Linked DNA regions of Homo sapiens. The protein of the gene in region 1 purifies or fractionates together with the protein of each later gene. This does not show direct contact. Each region holds a gene or a part of one and is shown on either strand. Other genes may lie near its edges. The genes, in order: FAM219A, OBSL1, WDFY1 and FBXO10.

The links.
Region 2: the proteins of FAM219A (region 1) and OBSL1 purify together in Homo sapiens (affinity purification with mass spectrometry; 4 studies listed by BioGRID and IntAct, with this or other methods). This does not show direct contact.
Region 3: the proteins of FAM219A (region 1) and WDFY1 purify together in Homo sapiens (affinity purification with mass spectrometry; 3 studies listed by BioGRID and IntAct, with this or other methods). This does not show direct contact.
Region 4: the proteins of FAM219A (region 1) and FBXO10 purify together in Homo sapiens (affinity purification with mass spectrometry; 3 studies listed by BioGRID and IntAct, with this or other methods). This does not show direct contact.

The regions. Positions count from the first base shown.
Region 1 is NC_000009.12:34,455,540-34,463,183, forward strand, and holds the start of FAM219A (protein FAM219A), read right to left. Parts: upstream 3,032-7,644; 5' UTR 2,725-3,031; coding exon 2,665-2,724; intron 1-2,664. Other genes in the region: DNAI1 (dynein axonemal intermediate chain 1), read left to right, coding at 3,467-3,514.
Region 2 is NC_000002.12:219,561,500-219,568,539, forward strand, and holds part of OBSL1 (obscurin-like protein 1 isoform 1 precursor), read right to left. Parts: intron 6,826-7,040; coding exon 6,556-6,825; intron 6,471-6,555; coding exon 6,219-6,470; intron 6,077-6,218; coding exon 5,774-6,076; intron 5,628-5,773; coding exon 5,331-5,627; intron 4,016-5,330; coding exon 3,743-4,015; intron 2,129-3,742; coding exon 1,856-2,128; intron 1,176-1,855; coding exon 903-1,175; intron 510-902; coding exon of another isoform or gene 385-509; exon of another isoform or gene 223-384; intron 1-222. UniProt on the Homo sapiens protein: Core component of the 3M complex, a complex required to regulate microtubule dynamics and genome integrity. It is unclear how the 3M complex regulates microtubules, it could act by controlling the level of a microtubule stabilizer.
Region 3 is NC_000002.12:223,942,310-223,950,010, reverse strand, and holds the start of WDFY1 (WD repeat and FYVE domain-containing protein 1), read left to right. Parts: upstream 1-4,675; 5' UTR 4,676-4,726; coding exon 4,727-4,863; intron 4,864-5,455; exon of another isoform or gene 5,456-5,532; intron 5,533-5,603; exon of another isoform or gene 5,604-6,787; intron 6,788-7,701. UniProt on the Homo sapiens protein: Positively regulates TLR3- and TLR4-mediated signaling pathways by bridging the interaction between TLR3 or TLR4 and TICAM1.
Region 4 is NC_000009.12:37,531,372-37,538,411, forward strand, and holds part of FBXO10 (F-box only protein 10), read right to left. Parts: intron 6,573-7,040; coding exon 5,739-6,572; intron 688-5,738; coding exon 538-687; intron 1-537. UniProt on the Homo sapiens protein: Substrate-recognition component of the SCF (SKP1-CUL1-F-box protein)-type E3 ubiquitin ligase complex. Mediates the ubiquitination and degradation of BCL2, an antiapoptotic protein, thereby playing a role in apoptosis by controlling the stability of BCL2.

The DNA.
Region 1 (7,644 bases):
CACTGCAGCCTCAACCTCCTGGGCTCAAGCAATCCTCCTGCCTCGGCCTCCTGAGTAGCTGGTACTACAGGCATGCAGCACCATGCTGAGCTAATTTTAAATATTTTTGTAGAGATGGAGTCTCACTGTGTTTCCCAGGCTGGACTATCTTAATTCTTTATGCCCCAAAATGAAGACTCCTGAAGAAACATCACACAAGATTCTGCTGGTCTCAACAATACACAGGGTATTTAAAGGGTTTTGAGGTGCCTCTGGAATACAACCTGGGGACAGAGGTCAGGAAGCGGGGCAATGTCTATGACCCTCAAATGAGGGATGACTATATTGCTATTTCCATAAGGCTCTCACTCAAACTCAATAAAGTATTCTCAGGCCGGGCATAGCAGCTCACTCTTGTAATCCTAGCATTTTGGGAGGCCGAGGCAGGCAGACCACTTGAGGTCAGGCATTCAAGACCAGCCTGGCCAACATGGCGAAACCCTGTCTCTACTAAAAATACAAAAATTAGCCATGCGTGGTGGCAGGGGCCTATAATCCCAGCTACTTGGGAGGCTGAGGTAGGAGAATCGCTTGAATCCAGGAGGTGGAGGTTGCATTGGGCCAAGATCGTGCCACTGCACTCTAGCCTGGGTGACAGAGAGGGACCCTGTCTCAAAAAAAAAGAAAAAAAAGTATTCTCTTGCACAAGGGTGACTTTAGCAGTTAAAGGGGTCTGAAGGCAGTCAGAGCTTTTCTAAGTGCCTCCTTGCCACAGATGCTTCTCCAACTCCAGGGCCACACAGACCGGAAGCAGCTCAAGAGTTCTCTACCCAGCCAAACCACTATTCAGAATTTCAGGCAATAACAGAAGCACCAAGGACAACTGAGAGCCTGGTGGCTCTATTTCTTCTCCCCTTTCCTTGAACAGCTATTTCCTTCCTTTTTGAGAACCCCAGATGGGTGACAAGAAACAACTCATTGCTTCCTTTTCCTGACACACTTGAACCTCCTCTTCCTTCATCCACCCTCTATTTTGATTCTTGATTAGATGCTTAGAACTGGAAGGGCAATCTCGTTTGACAAGCCAGGTTAGCTAGAAAGAGAACTCAGAAAGGAAAATTATCTTCAGCCAGCCCAAAGTCCTTCTTTAAGTTCATGGGATGGACTTCTCTCCAGGATTTTCTGGCTCCCAAATAATCCAATGATGGCATGAGGCTAGGAAAAAGTCCTGCAACACCTCTCTCCGGTTTAATATTGTATGCTTCTGTAAAACTTCTTTGTTTTGGCTCTTAGAACTGTCTAAGCAGTCATGAAAGGGGGAAAAAGCCTTTGTCTCCTGCTAAGTGGCCACTAATGATTCTCTCTACCATCCCTCAAAAGGTGTGACAAAAAGGTGGTGATGGGTCCCTGCCGAGGCCCATCTTGGCTGCTGTAATGGGTAGGTTACTCGCCCAGGAAGCTACAAAGCACATCTGTCAGCCAGGGGGTTATAGGCCCAAGGGTAGACCTGTTTCTGGCCACCCTGCCTAACACAGAAGCAGAACTTCAGAACTTGGAGAACTCAGCTCTGCTCCAGCCAGCACAGCTCAGAGAAATGGGGCATCCACACTTTCGGATTTGTAGCCCACCTTGCCTCCTTCCAATTCCAGCTCAGGCTCCAGGGGGATAAAGCGAACACAGCCTAGACATTCCCTCTCTTCCCCCCTCACTATACGAGCTGGCTAGGCCTCCACGTCTCCCACCCGGTTGCCTGACAGACAAGCGAGGTCAGGGAGCCCCCTGGGCGGTGGCCAGCAAGCATGGTCTCCCTTAGGCCTAGCCTCGGTGCACCCGAGTTGCCCTCCCCCTTCCATTCCCTCCGCGCCAGCAGCGATGACATCATTCCTCCCTGACTCCGGGACCGCGGACAGGCGGCAGGATCCGCGCCCAGCAAGGACTTCAGGCACGTAGGCCTAAGATGATGGGGGCTCTTCCCAACCAGTGCGCACAGGCAGCTCCAGCGCGACCCCACTTCCTCTCCCGTCGGTTCCCGAGCACTCTCATCTGCACCCCGATTCCCCATCTGGTCGCCGCGCACTCTCCTTCCCGGTTTAGATGCCCCCAGCCTGGTCTGCCTGCGCTCCCCACCGGAGAACGGAATTCCCAGGTTCTGCACCAACCACCTTCCCCCACTGGGTCCCTCGCCCCGGCCCAGCGTTCCTGTCCGTATATCCAGCGGACAGGCGGGCAAGCCCCTCCTCTTCTAAAAGCTGATTCCCAATCTCTCTTAGCCTGACGGCTCCCCCGCCCTAAGCATCACAGGCCTCTAGGACTAAACGCCTCCCCACCTCCCATCCCAGACCCCTGGGCCTGCCGCCGGCGGTGCCCCATGGCAGTTCCCTCGCCAGTCCCTGCTATGGGCCTCCACTAGCGGTGTGCACCTTTGTGCCCCCTCCGTTCCATCCGACGGTGCCCTGCTTCCACCGACGGTGCCCTCCGCCCTTACAGGTCCCTTTGCTCTCATCCAGCATATTCTCCCACGGTTTTCTTGTCCTGCAAGTCCCCGTCCCCCGGCAATACGTTTTCAGGGATCTCTTTGCCCCATCCGATGGCGCCCCTCCGCACGATCCCCCCGGCCTGATTCCCTCCCTCCCCCTCAAGCGACGCCCCCTCCGGCCTTGGCCTGCCCGCCGCCCGCCCCCTCACCAGCGGCTGCATCTCCGAGTGCGCGGTGGGCACCTGGAACCGGTCGATCTCCTCCATCATGGTGCCGGCGGGCGAGCGGGCCAGGGGCCGGGCGCGGCCGCGGACGCCGACAGGACCGCGCGGGGCGGCGGCCCCAGGAGCCCGGCGGGTGGTGCAGACTAGGCCTCCCCGGACCACTCGGGCGGGCAGGGGCCGGGCGGATGCAGGGGTGGGCGGGGGCGAGAGGTTCGCAGACTGGCTGAGGCCGGCGTGACTCCGTGGGCTTGCCTAGCACTACCGCGGCTGTGGCCGGGCCGAGCCGCAGGTCTTGCCTCGCCTCCTACTCCGCTGCCGCCTCCTGTCAGCAGCTCAGCCACTGCGGTGACTCGGCAACTCCACTTCCGGGTCCGGGACACCGCCCGGATCTTGCATTATTCATGAGGAGGCGGTGCCTGGGGACCCCAGCCCCACCCACATGCGGGAGTTCCGAATGCGCGCGGCCGCCCAGCTGTGATTCCTGAGGGGGCGGGGCTTAGTGGAGACTCGCTCGCCGCGCGCCCAACCCCGCCTCCTTTCCGGGCCGGCTGGGCGCGCCGAAGCGCCTGCGCCTTGGCTGCTGGTCGGTTGCTGGGTAACCGCGTCAGGGAGTTGGATTCTATCCTGCAAGGGCACGGGGACCCACAACGACGGCTGTCCCTAAAGAACCGTTGCGACTGGTAACTGAAGTGGAAGAGAGTCCAGATTTCTTGTGTGTGGTCAAGGAGACGGACAAACTTTTTGTCTTCAGACGAGGGAGCGTTTTGTAGGCTCTCCAGGGGTTGAGATGATTCCTGCTTCTGCGAAGGCTCCCCATAAACAGCCTCATAAGCAGGTAACGTACGCACACCTTCCTTCTGATGACCTCTGACCTTCGTCGTCGCCAGTGACCACTAATCATACCTCTCCTACTGATCCTTGATCTTTTCTCTGTTGACCCCAGCCTTCTCACCCCCGTGACCTCTGGTAAGTGCTCCCACTGACCTCTGACTCTGTCCTACTCTTTCCCACTAATCCCGGCCTCCTCTCCCATACTACCCCAATCCACCGTTTCTTACCTCTCTCCTTTTATCCACCATTCCCATCTCTTCACTTCACTTTACCCCATGGACTCATTCTGACCAGTCTATTCTCCTTAACTTCCCCATCCCCATTCCCACGAGTCCCTTCCTCCTTGTTCTCACATTCTTGTCCCAAAGGAATTTTTCTTTTTCTTTTTCTTTCTTTCTTTCTTTTTTTTTTTTTGAGACAGAGGCTCGCCCTGTAGCCCAGGCTAGAATGCAGTGGCGCCATCTCAGCTCTCTGTAACCTCTGCCTCCTGGGTGCAAGCGATTCTCCCACTTCAGCCTGACGAATAGCTGGAACCAAAGGCATAGGCCACCACGCCCGGCTAAATTTTGTGTTTTTGGTAGAGACGGGGTTTCCCCATGTTGCCCAGGCCCGTCTCTAACTCCTGAGCTCAAGCGATCCTCCTACCTTGACCTTCCGAAGTGCTGGGATTACAGGCGTGAGCCACGGCGCCCAGCCTCAAAGGCATTCTTTATCCAACCCTTTGCTGTGTGCCTAGCTCCAGGCTAGGTGGGAACACAGCTCTTGCTGTTTGGGAGCCCACAGAGGGTGTGCAAGAGAACTAAACAGAATACAGGACAGGCTATGTGCAGGAGTGTGATTTTATTTTCTGTGCTGGGAGATTTATGAGGAGAGAAAGGGCAGGCAAAGAGGAAGAGGAGAGAGGCCCTTTTCTCATCCCTGTCCTCACCCCCACAGTGCACAACCCAAACACTCTGCCCCAACTATTTCTAGAGCCTCATATCTCTCTCTTCCCTGCGAGCCCCTGGTCCACTCCTATGATTCATTCAGCTATGTGAACATTATGCTCTTATTACCACCTGGACAGATGTCATCCCTTCTCACAGGAAACCCGAGTCATCCCCCACTTAACCCACTGAGCACAGAGTTCTGCTTTCTTCCTCAGCATCACCACGGAAGGCAAGGCAGTCCCAGTTTCCCAAGGAGTCTTCTGTGGTGAAGCAACTCAGTCCTTCAGGAACTTTTTCCAAACCCTTTATGAATTACCACTCAGGCTAATGTGTAGTTTCTAGCTCTGGAAAGCAGGACTTCTATATATTTATTCCAGATTTACCCCACTCAAGTCTAGGTACATTGAGGTTTAGAGAGCCAATCTCCATGCTACTTATGACTTTGCATATTTTGGTCTGGCCACCTCCATGTTAGCCTTTGCTCCTCTGCCTCTTTTACCTGGGCTTCTGTAGCAGATGGACCTGACTTTCTTAGGTCTCTGCAGCCTTGGGGAAGCTGCTAGTCCCATATGAACATGCCCTAATTTTATGTTGGGGTTGGGCTTTACGTTGAAGTTCATGTACTGTGTTTGAGCCTCCTGACCCTATATTTACAGGCAGTTTGCTTTTATTTATTTTTTATTTTTGTATTTTTTATTTTTGAGACGGAGTTTCACTCTTGTCACCCAGGGTGGAGTGCAGTGGCGCAATCTAGGTTCACTGCAACCTCCACCTCCCCGATTCAAGGGACCTGCCTCAGCCTCCCAAGTAGCTGGGATTACAGGCATGCACCACCATGCCTGGCTAATTTTTTTTTATTATTTTATTTTATTTTATTTTTGAGACGGAGTCTTGCTCTGTCGCCCAGGCTGGAGTGCAGTGGTGTGATCTTGGCTCACTGCAAGCTCCGCCTCCTGGGTTCACGTCATTCTCCTGCCTCAGCCTCCCAAGGAGCTGGGACTATAGGCGCCTGCCACCACGCCCAGCTAATTTTTTTGTATTTTTGGTAGAGACAGGGTTTCACTGTGTTAGCCACGATGGTCTTGGATCTCCTGACCTCGTGATCTGCCCGCCTCGGCCTCCCAAAGTGCTGGGATTACAGGTGTGGGCCACCGCACCCAGCCAATTTTTGTATTTTTAGTAGAGACGGGGTTTCACCATATTGGTCAGGCTGGTCTCGGACTCCTGACCTCAGGTGATCCACAGGCCTAGGCCTCCCAAAGTGCTGGGATTACAGGGGTGAGCCCCCGTGCCCCAGCAGTTTGCTTTTAAAATAAACATTATTGAGGTTTGGTTTACATATAATAGAATGTACCATTTTAGTTGTACGTGTTGACAAATTTTAACAAATTTACACACGTATAAACCACTACCACACTCAAGATATAGGATACTTTCTCTATCCCAAGAAGTTCCCTGTGCCTCATCCCACCTCCTATGCCCCACCCCTGGCCTGCCTAGGTAACCACAGATCTGCTTTCTGTCATTACAGATTCAATTTGTCTTTTCTAGCAACTTGCAGTTTGAACAAGCTTGGGGATGGGTTTCTCTAGCCCATTAGGGAGACATTAGAGACTAGTTACACTGAGAGCAGGGAGAGGTGACAGCAGACAGAAAGCAGAAAAAACTGGGTCAACTGGCCCCGTACACATCAGCACTGCCCCATGGAGGGAAGGGTTGTTTTAGTTCAGAGTAAATATTGGCGTGTGGGGTGTGAGAAAAGGTTAGGTTGTGCTAGGTTGTATTTACCATTTTCTTGCCTCAGTGAAGACCAATTTGAGTCAGTGCTAATCAGGTGTGGGATGTCCTAGAGATGTTTGAGAAGTTGTCCCTGTCCTCTGGGAATTCAGTTCAATGGGGGAGACAGAACACAGGCAGAAAAAGATAAAGGAGGATGGGATCCCTGGGGATGAAGGGGAGAGAAGCCTGCAGGTTAGAGCAGCAGAAAGGCTTCAGGGAGGAGGTAGGTAGGACTGGGTTGCCAGGGGTGAGGGAAGATCAGGGTTGGGTTTGTTAGAGGATAGAGAGGAGTTTAAATTCCATTTGTTCATATCACTCCACTAGTCGCCTTTTAATGGTTCCTTGTTGCTTTCAGGATAAAGTCCCAAAAGTCCAATTTGCTTGGTATGGCCTTTGCCACCCTGCATGGTCTTGCCTTTGCTACCCATCCTACTTCAAACCTCACCATTTCTCTATGAAAATTCCACAATCCCAGCAAACTGAACTGCCCTCACTTCCTGGAAAGTGATATTCACACTGTTTATCTCCTCTAAGCTTTTGAAATCTTTTCTGTCTGTGTCTACTAGTCTACTCCACCCTACCCCAAATCTTTCCTTCATATCCTATTCATATTTCGGGTCTAAGCTTGGCCCTCATATTCTTCTACAAAGGATTAAGTCCCCTTTCTGGAGGCAGGATAGGGTGATATCCCCTCTAGACTATAAACTATGTTATGGTAAGGATCATGTCTGTCTTGTTCATTGTTGATTCCCCTCTACCTAGCACAATACCTGGAATATATTAAATTCTAAGAAAATGAGTTCAATATGAATTCTGAATGCCCTAAGTTGTTCTTGGAAATTATCATCTGAATGTGTTCGAAGGATGGGAAGGGGTGAAGCTGGGATGGGGAGACTTGTGGGGAATTATAACAAGGAAATGTAACTGTGTAAGTATGGTTTTCCAGGTACATGTTTGTATCTGCTTTGGCAGTAGGGCTATGAATGATTCAAATTTGAACCACAAGTATCCATGCCTTAAGAAATGGGTTTTGGAGACTAAGAGATAAAAATATTGATGTGTAAATATTCATGCAGTAATTATTTATCGTACCCACTCTGTGTTAGGTACTGTTCTAGGTATTGGTGATATAGCAAGAAACAAAACAAACAAAAATCCCTGCTCTCATGGAGCTTATTTTTTAGTTGGAGGTAAAGTGGCAATAAATAAATTTGTAAAATATATAGTATATTAGATGGTGATAGATGCCAAGAAGAAAACTAAATCAGAGAAGTAGACTAAGAAGTTCAGGGAATCACAAGATTATCATTTAAATAGGATGGACAGGGAAGGTGTTACAGAGGTGGCATATGAGCAAAGACCTGAAGGAAATGAAAGAGCTATGCAATACCCGGGGGTAGGGTGTGGGGTGAAGGGATGGGGATAG
Region 2 (7,040 bases), on another chromosome or scaffold:
GGTCCCTAGACTGGCCCTCAACAACCCATGCTCTAAGATCCTGGAATGCGTCTGGCTTTCCTGCCAGGCTGTGCAGTCCTAGAGGGAAGCGGCCGTGTCTGCGTGCTGCTGGCTCCCGTGTGTGGAAGGGTGACTTTCTCCCAGGCCTCCCTGACCCTCCTGCTCTGTGCTCTTGAGCCCTCTGCCCTTGGCCCTCACAGTACTTATCACCAGGTGTCACTGTACATTTATTTGCATGTTTATTGGTTTAACACAGGGGTCGCAAACTCAAATGCCCACAGGGGCCAGGTTAGGTTAGCGGCTGAAGCAGTCTGGGGAGAGGCAAAAAGCAATGGCAGGGAGGTGGGACAGAGGAATGTGGGCCCCAAACTATGGGGGCAGCTGCTACTCAGTGCCAGCTGTTCGTCGCCATGGGGGGAAGCGGGACCAGAGCCGCCGGGTCTTCGGCTTTTTCAAGAGGACGCATAACTCCGGATTGTTATTTGAACTGTCCTGACTTTGGTAAGACTCTGCAGACCAAACAAAGCACATGTGTGGAATGCGCAGGGCCCCAGGACTACCCGTTTGCGACCCCTGGTTAACAGCTGCCTCCTCACCTAGCCTGGCAGCTCATTCAGAATAGGGACCGTATTTGCATTACTCACCTGCTACTCCCAGTGCCTGATTCAGGGAAAGTGCTCAGTAAATGAGCTGTGGAGCAGAGCTAGGCCTGGCCTTGGGCACCGGGGAGGGGCTTGTTTCCTTGAATAGGGGCCCTGGGCTCATCTCAGCAAGAACCCTGGCACATGCACCTGCAGCCCACACCTCCCTCCTCCCCGGGGTGCTAGCTGGGGCTATGTGGCCAGCTCCTCCAGGGCTCAGGGCTGTCTCTGTGACCCCGGGGAGCTGGGCTGGGCCCACACCTGTGACGGTGACAGTGAAGGAGGCCGACTCATCGTCAATTTCACACAAGTACTCGCCGGAGTCCTCGAGCTGGACAGCGGGCAGCACCAGGCGGCGGACAGTGTCTTCCTTCTGCAGGAGCAGCGCGGGGCTCTCCACCACCTCCTCTCCATCCTTGGTCCAGCGCACCTCTGCCCAGGGCCGGCATAGCTCACAGGTCAGCACCACACGCTCCAGGCGCACGGCTGCCACATACACCTTGCCGCTGGGATACACGATCCACGAGGAGACGTCTGGAGGACAGGGACAGCCACTGCCGGGCATGAGGGGTGTGCCCTGCCGTCCTCCCTGACCCCGTTGTGTTCCCTACCCCTGGAAAGTAGGCCATGTGTTGAAGAGGGACCTTCCTGAGACCAAATCTCACAGCAGCTGACAGTTACTCACAGCTAGAGACACACGAATACAGCTGTCACAAAAGCACAGCAGACTTTCTGCTGCGCAGGAGCTGCACAGAGGGGACCACGGGGTCAGCCTCGGCTGTAGAAACGCTCCACATTCTCTGGGTTGGGACAGGGACGGTATGAAGGGTGGAACTGATGAGAGGAGGGTTGGGGGGAGGAGCTGGGGGTCTCCTCCTCCAAGATGTTTTTGCCCCCCTAGTGCCTGAGACCACCAGCCCTAGACTCTGCCCTACCCTGCAATAGACTCACTGTCCCCAGAGATTTCCCTTGGTACAGGTTTTCAGGAGAATAGAGAAAGCCAGGCTTCCTTAGCCAAGACCAATGTGCTTATGATAACACGTTTCCTGAATGTGACTAGACCATAGCTTGAGGAGAAAGGGAGGAGGTCCGATCTGCCAGGGGGAGGGCAGTAGGGGCGGGGAACAGTGGCCTGGGAGTGAAGGTGTGGCAGCTGTTCCAGTGGGAGCAGGGGCACCTTCCCCTGTGCCTCCGAGGCCCACCTGGCCCCCCACCTGTGATGGTGACAGTGAAGTAGGCACACTCATCTCCAGCGACGCACTGAAACTCGCCCCCGTCTGAGGGCTGGGTGGCGGGCAGCACCAGGCGGCGATGGGGCCCCTCATTCTCCAGCACCACGAAGTCACTCTCCTCCACCTCCTGCCCGTCCTTGTACCAACGCACAGGGGCGTCCTCTCGGTCCACCTCACAGGCCAGCATGACACACTCGGAAGTTATGGCATGCACGAACACATGTTCTCGGGGGTCCACGATGTGCACGGGAGGATCTGGGTGGGAAGCAGAGATGGCATTGCACAGACACCCCCGCACAATGAGTCCAAACTAGCTGTGTGGCCAGGAGACACTGTTTCTGCACAAGAGGACACTGGAGGAGGGCTAAGGTCCTGCTGTGTAGGGACTCAGGGACAATGACAAGGAATGCTGAGGGCATGGCAGGTGAGGCATGGCAGGAGATCATGTGGCACCAGAGTGCTCTGTAGGTCCCCAAAGGATCAGAGGTGGCGGGGTGAGTACATAGAGAGAAGGAAGCACAGAGAGTTCACAGAGTGGCAGCCACCATTTGTCTAGGCTGAAGGGAGGTCACTGTCACAAGTCACATCAGGGCCATGCTTACTGCCTCTATTACGAGAAAGACCCCAGGGTGGGCAGGAGGTGAAGGATGATCCAACAAGTGGCAACAGTGAGACAGCCACTCTCCAGGTAGTGGGTTCCCTGTCACTGGGTGCATTCAGGCAGGGGCCACAGTGTGGAAAACAGGACTCCCACTCAGTGAGATGAGTGGGATCCATGGTTCCCAAGCTGCTCTCTCAGAGAGTCTGCACTTGTTAGGAAAGGATCTTCAGGCTCCACCCTGGATACTGGGGCTCTGGACAGTCCAGGGATTTATAACCAGCTTCCAGGAGCTTCCTAAAGCAGCCAGCCTACGGACTGCCTTGTGAGAACCACGGGGTGACTGCACTCGATGCTTCTGTTTGACTCTATCTGAGGCAGCAGGAACAGAACAATCCTGTGTGTGTCGCCAAGCTATGGTGTGACGGAGGTCACATAACCTCTTACAGCCTCCATTTCTTTGCCTGTGAACTGGAGATATATTGCCCCTCATCGAGTTGTGAAGATTAAATGAAAGAGTGTATATTGAAAATACTTAGCATAGTGCTTGGCTCAGAGTAAGTGTCCAAAAAGTGTTTGCTCCCATCTCTCCTCCCCTTAATTGCATTTTGTTCCCCCACCCAACCCAGCAGAGGCTATGTGGACAGCGAGACAGTGTTAGTGTATCAGGGGTTTAGGAGGCAAAGGCACGCTGTGCGTGGCACACACCTATAATCCCAGCTGCTCAGGAGGCTGAGGAAGGAGGATCGTTTGAGCACAGGAGTTCAAGGCCAGCCTGGGCAACAGTGAGACCCTCATCTTAAAAAAAGAAAGAAAGAAAGAAAGCCAGGCATGGTGGCTCATACCTATAATCCCAGCATTTTAGAAGGCTGAGGCGGGCAGATCATTTGAGGTCAGGGGTGACCTAACCAACATAGTGAAACCGTCTCTACCAAATAATAAAAAAATTAGCTGGGCGTGGTGGCGCGCACCTGTAGTCCCAGCTACTTGGGAGGCTGAGGTGAGAGAATCGCTTTAACCCAGGAGGCGGAGGTTGCAATGAGCTGAGATCACGCCACTGCCCTCCAGCCAGGGCAACAGAGTGAGAGCCTGTCTCCAAAAAAAACAAGAAACAAAAAAGCAAGTGCAGAGTTATCTGAAACATGTCCCCTGGGCCACTGGACTCTCCCTGTAAAGGACTCCCCCAAGTAGGCAGCAGACCAGAGGGCATGGCTTATGCGGCCCCACAATCAGCCTTGGCTGGAGGAGCCCAGGCTGGCATGCTTCCTGACCTTGGACAGTGACGCCGAAGAAGGCCGAGACCCCTTCTGTCCTGCACTCAAACTCGCCACTGTCCTGGACTTTGGCCTCAGGCAGGATCAGACGGTGTTTGCGCCCATCCATCTTCACCACCAGCAACTCGCTCTCCTCCACCTTCTGCCCATCCTTGTACCAGGTTGCCGGGAAGTCCACCCTTGAGAGCTCACAAGTCAGCACCACCCGCTCTGAGGTTGTGAAGGTCAACGACACCCTGTCCTGGGGGCTCAGGATGTGCACCGGGCTCTCTGTGTGGGGAGAAGTACAGATAAGCACCCCTCCCTCCGGTGCATGGGCTCAGTGTCGGATGCATCAGAGGGAACAACTGCTGTTGTTGGGGTTTTTAAAAATAGGCTTAGGCTTCCACACCAACCCTTAAGAGCAGTGCTTTGGCTGTGCATAAGAATTCCTAGGGAGCCTGCTAAAAATGCAGAATTCTTGGATTCCCAAGCACGCAGGGGCCAGGAAATCTGCATTATAAACCAGCCCTCCAGGTGGTTCTGATGTCAGTGAACTGGGATCCCATTTTGGAAATGCTGCTCTGGTTGCTGGTCAGGTCTCACCTGGCCCCTCTGCCTGCGATGCTGACAGTGAATCACCCCAAGACCCCGTGCATGGGTGCCGACAGATTCCTTGATTGGTCTTACAAACTCCAGCAATGGTGACATGGCAAATGCTAGCGTGATCCTTGAACTTTGAGCGCCCCACCTCCAGCTGTTCTCCTCAGGGATGCCTCATTCCCCTCCTTCCCCCTTTCAACAGGTGGCACAGTGTGATCAGGAGCCCGACTGCCTGGGTTCATAATTCAGCACCTGTGCTCATTAGCTCCGTACTTTGAGCAAGTCACTTAACGTATCTGCCTGTTTCCCCAGCTATAAAATGGGAATGTCAAAAGAACCTATCTTAAGTTTGAGATAAGCCTGGCCAACATGGCGAAGCCCCATCTCTACTAAAATACAAAAACAAGCCGGGCATGGTGATGCATGTCTGTAGTCCCAGCTACTCGGGAGGCTGAGGCAGGAGAATCTCTTGAACCCACAAGGTGGAGGTTGCAGTGAGCCGAGATCGCGCCATTGCACTCCAGCCTGGGCGACAGAGTGAGACTCTATCTCAAAAAAAAAAAAAGAACCTATCTTATAGGGCCATTGAGAAGATTGTGTTAATGTATGTAAGGTGATTAGGACTGCGCCTGGCACGTAGAAAGTTGCGATGACAATGTCAACAATTAGACAACATGGCAGGAGGCAGGCAGGGACTAGCAGCCAGGGTCTGTGTCTTTCAAATGAGATGACAAATCTGACAGGATTCTGTAAACCACAAAGCACTCCAGAGAATTGGGATATGATGCTGACATATATCAAGATAACAAGGGGTGCCCTGGATGTTGCATGTGGGTTGAAATTGGCCTTCCGGACCTCTGAGCCCTCAACCTCAGCCCATCATGGATGCTCCTTGCTCTCCTGGCCCAGATACAAGAAATAAAAACAGCATCTGCCTCGTTTTGCCAACAGGACTTCTGTGTCTTGACCCTTTCTGCCCACTCAGGTCCCCACTGGCACCAACCTTGGATTGTGAGGGCAGCTGAGTCCTGCACGCCGGGGCAGCTGAAGCCGACCAGGGCACCGCTGTCCTGGTGCTTGACGGCATGCAGGATGAGTCTGTGCTGCAGACCCTTCTGCTCTATACGGTACCGCAGGGCCCCAGGTTCCACCTGGCCCTCCGGCTCGTTACTCTTGAGCTCTTCCCCATTAAGGAACCAGGTACCCTGGATGATGGTGGAGAGATCGAGGGAGAAGACGGCATCTTCCCCGTCGTATACCTGCACATCCTCCAGACCTGCCACCAGGCGAGCTGTGGGCACTGAGGCAGGGACAGAGTGCAGCTGTCAGAACTAGAAGGTGTGGCAGAGGGCAGAGGCTGGCGGATGGCAAGCCTGTGAGAGGACCAGCACTGAGGGCTGGGGAAGGGAGGAGAAGTGATGGGTGGGTCTGGCAGGACCAACTCACCAAGGTGAGCAGAACCGTGGAACACCACGTGGGGACTACGGCCATGTCCGCTGACTGTGCAGATGCGGAAGCGGTAGTCACCCTCGGAGGGCACACAGTCGCCCGGCACCTCCACGGCTCCGGCTTTCTCGATGCTGAAGCACTGAATCCAGTCTTCAGAGCCCACTTCCTGCCGCTCCAGCCGGTAGATGAATGGGGTCTCGGGAGCTGGCTCGGGAGGCTTCCAGGTCAACAGGACCGTGTTCTTGTGGCCCTTGAACATCTCTGCCAATATGGGGGGTCCTGGGGGACTGTGCTTGACACCTGAGACCAAGGCAGGGATGTGTTCCGGCCTTGCTTGGGCCTCCACAGCCCTTCCACCTTAAATCTACTTCACCAACCCAGCTCCGGCATCTGGCCAACCTCCTGCCCTGCCTCGCCTGTCCAGAGGCCTTCCTGCCCTCACATTTTACTCTGAGAAGCGTAGTGGTACGGGAGTTGCCCAGGCTAAAGGTGACCTCGCCAGCATCCTCTCGGGTGACCCCTGGAAGGACCAGGGCATGCATGTGGCCTGAGCTGCTCTGGCAGATGACCGGCAGCTCCTCCCCATCACGGCTCCAGCGTCCCTCGACCCCGGCCTCTAGAGTTTCCACTAGCAGCACAGCATTCTCTCCTTCCAGGACGTCGAGCTTCCGGGGCAGGCGCTTCAGGATGGGCCCTGAGATGCGGACAGGAATCCATCAACCTGGAATCTGAGCACCTGCCTGCCTCCGCCTCAGCCTCTTCCCCACGGGCCAGCTGACCTTTGACTGTGACGTTGGCCACGGTGCGCACCCGGCCCCGCATCTCGCACAGGTAGATACCATCATCGTCTGCCTTCAGCCTGTGGATGATGAGGCGCCGGACAGTGCCCTCTTCGATCTGCTCGTACTTGCGGCAGGGCAGCAGCCGCTGGTCCTCACGGAACCAGGCCGTGGGGATGCGGGAGTTGGGTACTTTACATTCCAGCACGGCAATCCCGTGCTCACGGCCCTCCACGTCCTGCAGGGGCCGTGTGAACCGGAGGCGGGGCTCTGTGGAGAGGGGAGAGAGAGACAAGAGAGGGCTCTGGAGAAGGCCCAGACTAGGAGTAGGATACCTAGAAGCGCATTAGCTCATGCTGTGTGCTCTTCATGCAGAGCCAGCGGGCACTGTGGAATCACAGAAAACTACCAGAAGGGAAGTGGTGGTTCCTAAGATGACCTGAGTTCTCATCCAGCCCTGACACTAGCCACATCACCTTAAGCAA
Region 3 (7,701 bases), on another chromosome or scaffold:
AGTACACTGAAGTCTGGGTGACAGAGTAGTAACACTCTGTCTCAAGAAAAAAAAAAAAAAGGTAAACCAAGGCACAATAATATTTTAAAGGGCTTATTTGTGTAAACAGCAATTCATGAATCGGACAGCTCTAAACCGGAAGTGTTTCCAGGGCTCTGTTGGAGAAGCATAAGGGTCAAACTTGGAAGAGTGAATGCAGAAATAATGCAAAGAAAATAATTGATTACAGTTATAAAGTGGCTTTATTTGGTCTATCCTGTGGGAAAATCCCTAGTTATTTAATTGTAAGTCTGTTGACTGCTTCTGAATGGTTGAGCTTAAGTTTTGTTTTTCTTTAATACAGGCATTTACAAGAAATAGTTCAAGTTAAGTTTCACTTATGTTTGCAAATCAAGCAAGGTTAAGATCACTTAGGAGGACTGACTGGCTTTGTCTCTTCGGGGAGTCTTCAGCCCTGGTTTCCATTTTAATTTAGTTTAACAGGCGAATCCCTGATTAAAATTTTTGAACAAGTATTTGTAGAGGGCCTTTCTCTCACTTAGTTTTGACCATCCTGCTGCCTTAAGATCAAGCATAAACTTGGCTCCTGAACTCTACCACCACCCAGTGAGCATCTGCTGACCCTGCAGAGGGTGGCACAGCAGGTTCCATCACTGTGCATTTAACTCCCAGAGTAATGGCTGCAGTCCAGACCTCTCTACTATTCAGTAGCATATACAAAACTCCTATATTCAGGCTGGTCATGGTGGCTCACGCCTGTAATCCCAGCACCTTGGGAGGCTGAGGCAGGTGGATCACCTGAGGTCAGGAGTTCGAAACCAGCCTGGCCAACATGGCAAAACCCCGTCTCTACTAAAAATACAAAAATTAGTCAGGCATAGTGGCACACGCCTGTAATCCCGGCTGCTGGGGAGGCTGAGACAGGATAATTGCTTCAACCAAGGAGGTGGAGGTTGCAGTGAGCCAAGATCGCACCACTGCACTCCAGCCTGGGCAACAGAGCAAGACTCCATCTCAAAAAAAAAACAAAAAAAACAAAAACAAACAAACAAACAAACAAAAACCTCCTGTATTCAACTGCCTACTCAGCCCCTTCACTTGGAGACCTAATACTCGTCTCAAGCTTCCTATGTCCAAAACTGAATTCTCCTTCTTCCCTTCCAAACCTGCTCCTCCTACATTTTCCACAGATCAGTAACTGGCAGCTCCACTTTTCCAGTTGCTCAGCCCACAAATCTTGGTATCATTCTTAACTATCTCATATTCAATATTCAACAAATTTCACTGGTACTACCTTCTACATAAGTCTAGAATCTGATGTCCTCTCACCACCAGCACCCTTAGAAAGCCACATCATTTCTCAATTACCCTGTTAATTTCTCAAATAACTTCCTGACTGACACCTTGCTTCTATTCTTGCCTTTTAAAATTGAAGGCAGATTAGCCCAGGCGCAGTGGCTCATGCCTATAATAATCCCAGCACTTTGGGAGGCCAAAGTGGGTGGATCACCTGGGGTTGGGAGTTCGAAACCAGCTTGGCCAACATGGTGACACCCTCTCTACTAAAAGTACAAAAATTAGCTGGGTGTGGTGGCACGTGCCTGTAGTCCCAGCTACTTGAGAAGCTGAGGCACGAGAATCACTTGAACCCAGGAGGTGGAGGTTGCAGTGAGCCAGGATCGCACCACTGCACTCCAGCCTGGACGACAGAGTGAGACTTCGTCTCGAAAAATAAATGAATACAAATTTAAAAACTTGAAGGCAGATTAAACCAGCCTTCTGTTCGAAACTCTCCAATGGCTTCCTATCTCATTTGAAGTAAAAACCAAAGCCCTTATCAATGGTCTCTGGGCTCAACATGGTCTGTCTGGTGACCTGTCTGTGCTGTTTTTCTCTGAGCACTCCCTCACTCACTCTGCTCCAGCCTCACGGGGTGCCTGGCTGTCTCTACAAAACCCCTGGCATGTGCTCACCTCAATGCCTTAACACGTGCTCTTTTCTTTTCCAGAAAAGTATTTGGCCCACATTTCCACATGGCTTACTCCCTCCTCTCCTTCTTGGCTCAAAATGTAACTTTACAATGAGGCTTTTACTTGTCTCAGGTTGCATTCTCCAGCAGCAGATACGGTGATAGAGGTTGGCTCAGAGGGTGTTTATTAGGAATCAATGCCTGTGAAGGGAGGGGGAGGTACCAGGATTAGGCAGGAGAAGTCAGCTGCAGTACACGCCTTACAAAGCCTTGTCCAATCTAGGAGAGAGTTCTAGAGCAAGTGTTGCTCATCGGTCTGTCTTGATGGTCAGGCCTTTATCCTCCTATCTTGTTCAGTTACTGAATGTGGGCTTCCCTGTGAAGGGAACAACTGAGACCCAGTGGTTCTCAGCAGCTGGGGCAGTCCCTGAAGGAGCTGAAGGCTAGAGGCTCTCTGCTGACCACTGTTCTTCCCTGAAAGCAGATCTGTGCAGTGTATTCCTGAATCTATCACACCATCTATTTAAAATCGCAACATCCCCTAGAGTCCCTATCACCCTTCCCTGCTTTATTTTCTCCATAGCATTTAATAGCATTGAACATCTTCTAATATATTATATAATTTAGTTTACTATCTGTTTCCTTCACTGGGATGTAAGTTCTAACAGCAGAGGGATTTTTGTCTCTCTTGAGCACTGCTGCATTTAGAATGGCACCTGGCTCACAGCAGGCACTTGGGAGATGTTGGTTGATTAAACAAAGTTGTTCAGTAGCGTGTCTAGTCATTACACTGTACAGCCTCACAAAAACCATGTCTTATTAATCTCATCAGCAACAGCATATAGTAAGTGTGCGATATATGTCTGTTGAATATAGGAATAAATAAATTCATGAATGTTTGTTAATAACTTCATCATGAGAAAGTATTAGTACAATGGTGGCTCCTGCCCGTAATCCCAGCATTTTGGGAGGCTGAGGTGGGCAGATGATTTGAGGGCAGAAGTTTGAGACCAGCCTGGTCAACATGGTGAAACCCTGTCTCTAGTAAAAATACAAAATTAGCCAGGCATGGTGGTAGGTGCTTGTAATCCCAGCTACTCGGGAAGCTGAGACAGGTGAATCCCTTTAACCTGGGAGGCGGAGGTTGCCGTAAACCGAGATCGCACCACTGCACTCCAGCCTGGGTGACGGAGTGAGTTCGTCTCAAAAAACTAAAACAAAACAAAACAAAAACAAAAAGAAAGTTCTAGTAAATCACTGTACATAGAAGTACCATCTGATTCACATCCATAATTTAAAGTTTTTATTAGCTACCTTAAAAAAATAAGCAGGTCATATTAATTTTAATAGTATCTAACTCAATATATCCAAAATAGTATCATTTCAACATGTAATCATTGTAACAATTATTGATGAACTATATTACATCTTTTTTGTTTTGTGCTAAGTCTATAAAATCTTGTAGTATTTTGCACTTGTACTACATCTCAGTTTGGACAAGCCACATTTCAAGTGCTCTATAGTCATGTGGATAGTACGGTTCTAATGCAATTCTGCAATTCAGGTGTCAGAATAATATAGTGGGGCAGAAGTTTGGAGTCATTGACTTCCTGAGTCCAAATTTTGGCTCTTGAACTTACTGGTTGTCAATGACCTCTAGCCAAAAACCACCAGGAACAAATGGGGTTGATTGCTTGTTGGAGGGAGAAGACACACCATTGGGAATGGTGAGGTGTCTGGGTAAAGGGATGTTCGGACAGTTTTATTATAGGATTTGTGTTTGTGTTAGGTGACCTGGGAGAGCTTAAGGAAGAGAGGCTCTCCTGTGGACTGGATGTTGTCAGGAAATGCGTATAATTCTAAGGTTGCATATCTTAATAAATCTTATCTAAATGGAGGAAGACTAGATAGCGGTTAACATTATAATTAATAAAGAAATAAGAGTCACTCATATTAGCCAGGATAGGGGGATGTTTGGTAATTTCTGTGGCTTGTACATCGCTCATATTTTGGCCGTGTTTAGATGTGATTATGGAGTGGCCTCGTCTGATGTTTATGTTCCACAGGAAGCAAACACTTCCTAGCAACACCAAAGCTCAGCTGATAGTACCAGGCAGCTCCTGGAGATCAAGGGCTGCTTTTCTCCCTCTCATAGCTGTGCAACCTTAAGGTAGTGATCAAACTTCTCTGGTTGTTTTCTCATCTCTAAAATGGGAATACAAGAGCATCTATTTCATCTCTTAAAATTATCAGTATTAAATGAGATGCAAAGACACTGAGTTAATGCCTGGTATATGGTCACCACTCAGTGCTATCTATTGTAGTTCAAAGATTCTAAGATGCACTATATTTTTTCACATTTTAACATTTCTGAAAGTGTGTGCCTTTCAAACAATGGCTTCTTCAAATGGATGAAATGTAGTATTGTAATTTCTGAAATCTCTGGTTTGGGGGACAATTCCTTGTCCCCTCCAGGTGCTCAATTTATTCCTGGGTGAATGGCTTTACTTTTAAACCTTCCTTACTTTCCCCATTTCTCCGCAGGCGCCCCGTGGCATCCTCTCCCAGCCACAGACTTTCAGCTTGCGCGGCATCCCCAGGCAATACGGGCGGTGCGGCGGCAGCACTCGGGGGCTTACGGCGGCGCGGCGCCCAAGAGGCCCCAGCAGCCGAAGGGAAACCGGCGCGTCCCCCGCCCGCCCAGGCGTCAGCTGATGGGCTGCCTGCCGAGGAGGCCGCAGCAGTCGCCGCGCGAACATGGCGGCCGAAATCCACTCCAGGCCGCAGAGCAGCCGCCCGGTGCTGCTGAGCAAGATCGAGGGGCACCAGGACGCCGTCACGGCCGCGCTGCTCATCCCCAAGGAGGACGGCGTGATCACGGCCAGCGAGGACAGGTAGGGCCCGGGCGCAGCCGGGGCGGCCCGAACTCCGCGACGACGGGGTGTGGGGGCGGTGGGGTCCGCGGCCCCGGTCCTTCCTGCGTGAGGGGGCTCCCCCGGCAGCACGGCCCCACCCCCACTCTGCGCCCCTTAGCTCCGCCGGGTTCCCGGTTCCCTCCCGCCGGTCCTCCAGCCTCGACTTGCACCTTTCCAGCCTGGGACCCCGGTCTCGCCGCGCCCCTCCAGCCCGGATCCCCTGTCCCACCGCGCCCCTCCAGCCCGGGAACTCCGTCTCACCGCGCCGCCCAAGCCCGGGACCCTTGTTCCAACGTGTCTTTCCAGCCCAGGACCCCTGTTCCAGTGCGCCCTACCGCGCCCCTCCCAGCCCACCTCGCCCCTCCTGCTCAGGACCCCTGTTCCAATGCTCCCCAACGCGCCCCTCCAGTCCGGGACCCTTGTCCCACTGCGCCCGTCCATCCCGGGAGCTCCGTCCCACCGCGCCCCTCTAGCCCGGATCTTCTGTCCCACTGCGCCCCTCCAGCCCGGGAACTCTGTCCCACCGCGCCACTCAAGCCCGGGACCCCGGTTCCAGTGCGCCCCAACGCACCTCTCCAGCCCAGGACCTCTGTCTCACCGCGCCCCTCCAGCGCGGGAACTCTGTCTCACCGCGCTGCTCAAGCCGGGGACCCCTGTTCCAGTGCGCACCAACGCGCCCCTCCCAGCCCACCGCGCTCCTCCAACCAGGGAACCCCGACCTGCGGTGTCGCACTAGCCTGGGACCTTCGTCCCGGTCTCTCTCCCTGGCGGGGTTTAGCCTGGTACTCGGAAGGTGTTTCTTGGCCCTCCCGGGTCAGTTCCAAATCGTCTCCTCTGGAAGCGTGGAGGACCGGCGGCTGGTCACTGCGGACCCTGGTGCCCGGGGCTTGCTTCTTTGCGAGGAACTCCAGCCGCCTTCGCTCTCTTCCTCCCCCTGTACTCAGGGATTTCACGCCACGCCAGGCCTCTAGATCAGTTATTTTTGCCACGGCTGCTAGAATCACCTGAACTCTTATTTACTAAATAGGTTTTTGTGAAAGTGACTCATTTTTAAAAATATTTGGATGCATTTATTTTAAAAGGAAATCTTATTTATTAGGAAAACTAACATTACTCACCAGACAGAGTAAACTAATAACTAAAACATGTTAATTGGCATGCACACAGAGTCCTCTCTTGCACTGTGACATCTTGCATTGGACGCCCACCATGCTTTTGGGAAACACTGATTGGGTCCAGTTTTCTCATTTCTCCTAAGAGGAAGCCGAGGCTGGTGGAGGTGTAGCTTGCTGCTAAGTTACAGAGATACTGGTGAAGCCGGAAATGCAATCCAGAACTCCCACCAGCTCTGGGCCTGAGTGATTGGATTGGAACAGTATTTATGATTCGACTTTAAACTTTAGCGTCTTTCAAATCCTAAAGGTTTACAATGTCAGTAGCTTTCCGGTGGGAATTTGAAGGAAATGACTGATGTTTATTGAATGAAACTGTGTTTCCTTGATGCAATGAGCCGTCTTAAATAGGGATAGTCCACAAGTCCAAAAGCTTTCTGGAGGATGGAAGGTACTGCTATTCTCTTAAAGCTGAAGGCGTGGTCTCTAGCCTTTTGTAATTATACCTTTTGAAGTGACATTGACCCTATCCTGAATGGGAAGAAAAAGCCTGAAGCCCCCAACTCCTGTTGGTCCTTTGGATTTTGCTTTTGAGTGAGCTTGTGCCTTTTTCCTCAATTAGATAATGAGCTGATTGTGAGCAGGCAGTGGCCTCTCCCTGCTGGTTCACCTGTAGCTGACTTCCAACAAGGAGGGGAGTGATTGGCAGGACCTGGCTGTGGGTCTGTAAAGCAGAAAGGAGTGAGAGAGATCGAGTGCATGAGACCTGGGGAGAAGGTGGGGACCTGAAAAAGGCAAGGACAGAATAATGACTTTTTTTTTTTTTTTTTAAGATGGAGGCTTGCTCTGTCACCCAGGCTGGATGGAGTGCAGTGGCATCATCTTGGCTCACTGCAACCTCCGCCTCCCAGGTTCAAGCGATTCTCCTGCCTCAACCTCCTGAGTAGCTGGGACTATAGGCGCCTGCCACCACGCCCAGCTAATTTTTCTATTTTTAGTAGAGACAGGGTTTCACCATGTTGGTCAGGATGGTCTCGATCTCCTGACCTCGTGATCCACCCGCCTTGGCCTCCCGAAGTGTTGGGATTACAAGCATGATCCACTGGTGTCCGGCCAGAATAATGACTCTTGCATGATGTGAACGTAGATGCAGACAACACTCTTTAAAAGTTAGCCTTTGGGCCGGGCGCGGTGGCTCACGCCTGTAATCCCAGCACTTTGGGAGGCCGAGGCGGGTGGATCATGAGGTCAGGAGATCGAGACCATCCTGGCTAACAAGGTGAAACCCCGTCTCTACTAAAAATACAAAAAATTAGCCGGGCGCGGTGGCGGGCGCCTGTAGTCCCAGCTACTGGGGAGGCTGAGGCAGGAGAATGGCGTGAACCCGGGAAGCGGAGCTTGCAGTGAGCCGAGATTGCGCCACTGCAGTCCGCAGTCCGGCCTGGGCGACAGAGCGAGACTCCGTCTCAAAAAAAAAAAAAAAAAAAGTTAGCCTTTGGCCAGGCGCAGTGGCTCATGCCTGTAATCCCAGCACTTTGGGAGGCCGAGGCGGGTGGATAACAAGGTCAGGAGGTCGAGACCATCCTGGCTAACACGGCGAAACCCAGTCTCTACTAAAAATTCAAAAATTAGCCAGGTGTGGTGGCAGGCGCCTGTAGTCCCAGCTACTCGGGAAGCTGAGGCAGGAGAATGGCGTGAACCTGGG
Region 4 (7,040 bases), 3.1 Mb from region 1:
AGCAGAAAAGGAGCTGGTCTCTCGTGTCACTGGCCACACAGTCTAGGATTTTAAGTGGTTTTCACACGGGTAGAAAATCAAACTCAATATGCCCTCACAATAACCACGAAACAATCTTCAGAACTAAATACCCGAAATGTCCTCTTACACAAGTGAATAAACTAACTTGGTGGGTTCGCTGCTGTTGTTTTTGTTTGTTGTTGGATCCAAGTGTCTTTAGGGCAGACATCACTCTCTTTAACCTTATCAAACTCAAAGCCAACCACAGCATATGAGGGCTGAGGGCCCTGTGAGGTTTCCCTGTCTTTCTGGTCCTCCTCCTTATTAACGGGGAGATGACCAGAAAATGACTTGTCCAAAGTCACTGCTAATACACAGACAGAGACACAGAGTCACAAGGACACGCAGAGGACAGAGCAGGAGCCACCTGCAAACAGGAAGCACGTAAATACAAGAGGGCAACGTGTATTTAAATATCCTCACAAATGGTTTCTGAAAACCAAGAGTCACCCTGAATAGGGAACGAACACAAAGTACCAGTATGAGTGGGTTGGACTTTTTCCGGATGTCTACACCAGCCTCTGCATTGTGGTAAATGTTGTTGCCGGCAATCAAGCCACCGCCCTCCAAGCGAAGAAAGATGCCTGACGCTCGGCAGCGGTAAATGTCGTTCCTGAGCATGATGATCTAAGCAGAAAAGAGAAAGCCATTTATTTTCCTGTTACAAATATTTTTTTAGAAACCACTGGAGGAACACCTGAGTCTTTTCCGCACCACCTGATCCATGCAGTTTACCCCGTAGGCAAGAGAAACGCCTCAATGCTGGCACAGCCACGCTCCCACTGTGTGCTCCCAGGACACAGCCATCTCCAGGCCCTACCTGGCTTTGCCCTGCAGGCTCCTTAGCGGTCTCACATTGGTTCTTTTTTTTTTTTTTTTTTTTTTTTGAGACAGGGTCTTGCTCTGTTGCCCAGGCTGGAGTGCAGTGGCATGATCTCGGCTTACTGCAAGCTCCGCCTCCCAGGCTCACGTGATCCTCCCACCTCAGCCTCCCAAATAGCTGGGGCTACAGGCTAATTTTTGAATTTTTGTTTATTTTTATTTTTACTATGGATGTGGGCTGGAGTAATTTTGTTGTTAACTTTTCTATTTTTTGTAGAGATGGAATCTCACTATGTTGCCCAGGCTGGTCTGGAACTCTTGGGCTCAAGCAATCCTCCCACCTTGGCCTCCCAAACTGCTGGCATTACAGGCATGAACCACTACACCTGGCCCACACTGGTCCTTTAACTAAAACCTGGACCAAAGCTTGGCCCTGTGCTCTATATTCAGAACCTGCAAGCAGCATAGCTGGATGATGGGATAGAAAGGACGCTTAGGGGAAGATGGGACTGAGTGGTCTTCAAACTTTACATGCACTAAGTTTGCATGAAGATTTCCCCAGGGGTCGAGGGTGCAGCTACTTTTAATGAAATAAAGTTCCAGGTCCACCACTTCCAATGCACCTTCACTAAAATCCACCTGTCTGAGACGGCACGGACAGTAAGGTACCACACAGGTTCTCCTCTCCCACCTTCCCTTCCACTTTATAAAACAAAGGCCTGTTCTTGCACATCCTAAATCTTTCATGGTGTATCACCCTGGGGTGGAAAACTACTGAGACTCCAAATGAAGGGATGATTAGAGATATTGGTATAACAAAGCCTCCTTCAAACAAGTTCCCATAACCAGCAACCTGCTAATAAAGGGATATATTTCCAATTACATTTTCTTTTTATGTTTAATAAGTACAGTTGTCTCCCCCATGTCTGTGGGTTCTGCATCCATGGATTCAACCAACTGTGGATTGAATATACATTATTAAAAATAATAAATAATAAAATTGAAAAACAGGCCAGGTGTGGTGGCTCACGTCTGTAATCTCAGCACTTTGGGAGGCCGAGGTGGGCGGATCACTTGAGGTCAGGAGTTTGAGACCAGCCTGGCCAACACGGTGAAGCCTCGTTTCTACTAAAAATACAAAAACTAGCCAGGCATGGTGGCAGATGCCTGTAGTCCCAGCTACTCAGGAGGCTAAGGCAGGAGAATCTCTTGAATCAGGGAGGCAGAGGTTGCAGTGAGCCGAGATTGTGCCACTGTATTCCAGCCTGGGCGACAGAGTGAGACCTTATCTCAAAAATAAAATAAAATTGAATTAAAAAAAACAACAACAGTATAGGCTGGACGTGTTGGCTCATGCCTGTAATCCCAGCACTTTGGGAGGCTGAGGCGGGCGGATCACCTGAGGTCAGGAGTTTGAGACCAGCCTGGCCAACATGGTGAAACCCCATCTCTACTAAAAATACAACAAATTAGCTGGGCGTGGTGGCTCATGCCTGTAGTTTCAGCTACTTGGGAGGCTGGGGCAGGAGAATCGCTTGAACCCAGGAGGCAGAGGTTGCAGTGAGCTGAGATCACATCTTTGCACTCCAGCCTGGGCTAAACAGTGGAGACTCCGTCTCAAAAAAAAAAAAACAAAAAAAACACAACCAACAAACAAAAAAACCCAGTAGAAGAGCTATTTACATAGCATTTGCATCGTATTGGGTATTATAAGTAATCTAGAGATGACTGAAGTGTGGGAGGATGTGTGCAGGTTAGGTGCAAATACTATAACATTTTATATAAGGGATTTGAGCATCTGTGGATTTTAGTATCCTGGAACCAAGCCCCCACGGATACCAAAGCATGATAATATATAAAAAATCTGGAATGTTTATCTATGCTGTCTTAAACAATTATAGATTAATAATAAAATATATTATTATAAATTGTGTACTACTAATAATATATTGCATTAGGACAAAATTCTGTGAAGACTAAAGTAGAACAAGAGTATAAATGGTAAGGTTTCAGCTTCTGCTTAGGATGGAGAAAGTAGAAAGAATATACACAAACATGGACTTTCTGGTGGAACCCATCAGAGCTGAGGCTGCTGGACAACCGGCTAGCCTGAATGCTACAAAAAGACAGGTGCCTTTCGGAGCGTGCAGTGAGCCCAGATCGTGCCACTGCAGTCCGGCCTGGGTGAAAGAGTGAGACTCCGTCTCAAAAAAAGAAAGACAGGCGCCTCCAAGGAGACGAGGCCTGAGCACTTCCCTGCTGAATGCAGGGCTGCATGTGTCATACAAGCCAGTAAGAACTCAGCTAACATTTTCAATGCACTGTTAAAGACCAGCTGTGAATTAGTGTGAGTGCAGAAACTCTGGGAGTAGCTGCACCTGTTCACTTCTCTGTGGCCTTCACTAGGTGTTCATGGAGAAAACTGGGGGCAGATGAGAGACTGGAGACAGCACCCTCCTGACGCAGGCTGGGGACAAAAGTGAGAGAGGCATTAAGCCCCTCTCCTGTGTTCTTTCCCCCTAACTCTCTTACAAAACAAACCGTATGCACAGAGAAACAGCGGGAAAACACTCTTATCTCTGGGGGTGTTGGGAGGAAAGTGACTTAGGCCCAGATCATCAGAGGTCCCCTAGTGCTGGGGGTAGAGCCAGGGTCACTGAAAAAGTCCTGCTCTCAAGACCACAGACACAGCACCTACCTAGACTAAGGATGACCCAGGACAAGAGAGAAACCCTGCCATCACGTAGGGTGACAAATAATGGCAGTCTACTGCTGAGGGAGGGCGAGAGCAGCGGAGATCGCCTCTGAGCAGCAGGCACAAAGGAAGATCTGAAGCGGAGAAAACTAGCACGAGGTAATGCTGGAGAGAGCTGAAGCCTACGGGACGCTGAGGATAATCCTATCATCACCATAATTCAAACGGGCTCAGCTCCTAACTAGATCGACCTCCTAAGAGCCAGGCAAAAGAAGAGGTGTGCCCATTTCCAAACTAAATACTACAGAGCTCAGTCCCCACTGTCCTACATGAGATATCTGACTTCCAACTAAAATTTATGACACATAAAGAAGAAAATCACAGTCGGTGACACTTCTTTTTTTTTATTTTTTTTTTGGAGACGGAGTCTTGCTCTGTCACCCAGGCTGGAATGCAGTGGCGCAATCTTGGCTTTCACTTGCAACCTCCACCTCCCGGGTTCAAGCAATTCTCCTGCCTCAGCCTCCCGAGTAGCTGGGACTACAAGTGCCCGCTGCCATGCCTGGCTATTTTTTTTTTATTTTATTTTAGTAGAGACGGGGTTTCACCGTGTTGCCCAGGCTGGTCTCGAACTCCTGAGCTCAGGCAATCTGCCCGCCTCAGCCTCCCAAAGTGCTAGGATTACAGGCTTGAGCCACAGCACCCGGCTGACACTTTTCTTCTTGGAGCCTCAAGCAACCAGGCTCCTCCTGCCAGCCTTTACCCTCCTGGGATGTTCTAGAGGACAGAGCCAGGTGACAGCCTTCTGTGGGGGAGCAAGGATCAAGGCCTTGCTTGAAAGGGTGAAAGGGTGTGTCTCCCCTTACTTCTGGGCCTTCACACACACCTCCTTTGCCTCGCGTCTTCACCCTGCCGACTTAAGGGGCAGAGCCAGACTTTAACTAGAAAGCCATATTCTCAATAACTATGCAAGGAAGAATGCCCTCCTTGAGGGCTTGAGCCAGATCCTTTCATCGTGGTAGTCACGACAGCAAAGCTATTACCTTTCCCTTTTTATTTGGCCATTTTCTTTTATGTATGTGTACAGGAGTCTTGCATTATGCTTTCAAAGTAACATCACCTGAAATCCTCTTTGGAAGTGGGCTGGGTAAAACACAATTAAATTTAAATTAATTAAAATGTGATTGCTATTAACCATTTTAGAAGCCTGCAACACTCATGAGTGACCTTTGTACAATGTTCTTTAGTTTACTGAATACTTCCGGCATGGGACCTTCCAATAGCCAGTGAGAGAAGAAAAATAGGGATGCTTATTTTCATTTTACGAAAGTGAAGGTCATGTTCATAGTGAGTTAGTGGAGAGGTGAGACTCGAATCTAGGTGCTATGCCATGCTTTCTTCTGCATGGGCTGTCTTTCCCTTCAGAAGGCCTTCCTGTCATCAACCATTTACAGGATTTGCAGATTGTCCTGTGGTGCCCTAAGTCCCAGCACATAGAAGGTGTTGATTGTCGCAGTGGCTAGAAGGACTGTTCTTAGCATAAGGCCCAAATGTCTCAAGGGGGATTCCAGGTCTGGGTAAGGTAGCTTTTGCTCACCCCCAGCTTCATCCTTCAACCTAGCCCCACCGCATGGTTGAATTCAACCTCACACCCAGGCTCTGGCGTAGGATGTTTCTGCTGTTGGGACACCCTCACTCTCCACCCCTTCTTATCACGTGTCCAATTTTCCCTGGACCTTCTTCTCATTGTACCCAGCACAGACGTTTCCTCAACAACCCTACTCCAGTTTGGAGTGAAGGTAGTAATCATATCTCCCTGAATTTTCTCTTATCCAGGCTTTGTTTCTCCTACTCCGACATGGTGAGATATGTGAGCAGCAGCATGACATAGTGAAAAGAGGCAGGAGACCCGAGTTTCTAGTCTCAATTCTGCCTAACTTGCTATGTGACCCTGAGTAAGCCACGTTCTCTCTCTGGGCCTCTCTTTCTGGGAAATGAGAAAAAGCGTTTCTGTCCTTTCCAAATCAGATGATGGGCATGACGTCAAGCGTGCGTGAATAAGTTTAAAGAAAATTATTTTTAAAATGCAAAATAGCCCCATCAAACCCTTCCTACATATAGCCACAGGAGCCCCCTGACCAATCTAAAGTCATGACAGCACCTTGCTATTATGTATACACCGCACTGCGTAAGTCAGGTTCCGGAAGATGTTTCCTTCCATCTTGGCTCTGCCGTGGGAGCAGACGAAGACGCCTCCCTTCCCGTCCCGGAAGAGGCACTTGCGGATGAGGCAGCCCTGCACGGAGTTGGCCAGTGCCATGGCCTCCTTATCCTTCTGCAGCTCCTGCTGCAGTGAGTTCAGCACTAGGCAGCTGGGCAGCTGAATGGATGCTCCTGGTAGAGGTGGGCCCAGAAATGAGCCCCCCAATACAGGGCGTGGGCCCTGCACTTGGTAGGATAGTCTGTACATCAGCTGGTCCTCATCTTCATCCTCACCGCTGGGACTCAGGCCTCCATCGCTGCTGTCCGGGGTCTGGGCCACCCTTTCACCATCACTACCCACCTCTGCCTCCTGTGAGCCAGCCTTGGAGCCTGGCTTTGGGGAGCTAGAGGCTGGGCTGGTAGGGCTCTGGCTGCCCTCGATAACAATGTCACAGGTCTTTGGGCTCCAGGCCTGGTCCCGGCTCTCTAGGTCCAGGGACATTAAAAAGTCAGAGTCCTCTGTGGGGAGAAAAGTGGGTGAGGACTTGATAAGCCCTAGTAGATACTTGTAGGCCCAGTTCTTATCTGCAGATGGGTGACCCTCAACAGTCACAGAGTTGTTTTCACTGCCCACAAATTCACAGTTTTCCAGGACACACAGGGGCACGTTGTGCAGGAAGATATGGGTGTTTTTGAAGGTACAGAACTTCACTTGGCAAGTACCCGGGCCATGGACCTGGATGTGCCCGTTCTCAAAGTTGCAGTTGTCAAACTGGACGTGACCTGATGTTGTCTGGGGAATGAAAAGAAGAAAACGGCTGTAAGAGGGATGAGATTGGTTTTGGACTCTAGCTGCCCTTTAAGGAGGGTAGAACATGGAAAGGCCATTTGTTCTGCTGATCATCTTCCCCTCCCCACTGGGGTCTGGATGTCAGCTGTCCCCAAAAGGAACTGGGGAGCTGCTCTGCATCAGAGAGGGAGGGAAACTGGAGCTGCCCGCACCTCCATCCTTCTAATCTCAAAGGAAGGGAGACAAGTAGATGATGGCAGAAAAGTTCACACTGCAGCATGACTCCTCCTAAAACCTCAAGTCTCAATCACGTGCCAGGGCTAGGACAGGCAGTGAGAGAGGCCTAGCCGCATGTGCTGGCAAAGAGTTCTGACTGTGTGGCAACTGATGCACGTGGTGCACAGCAAAATATGTCTCTAAAGAGAGGGGACAAGGTATACTGCCATTGCCAGGAAGCATTGAACAGTGGTT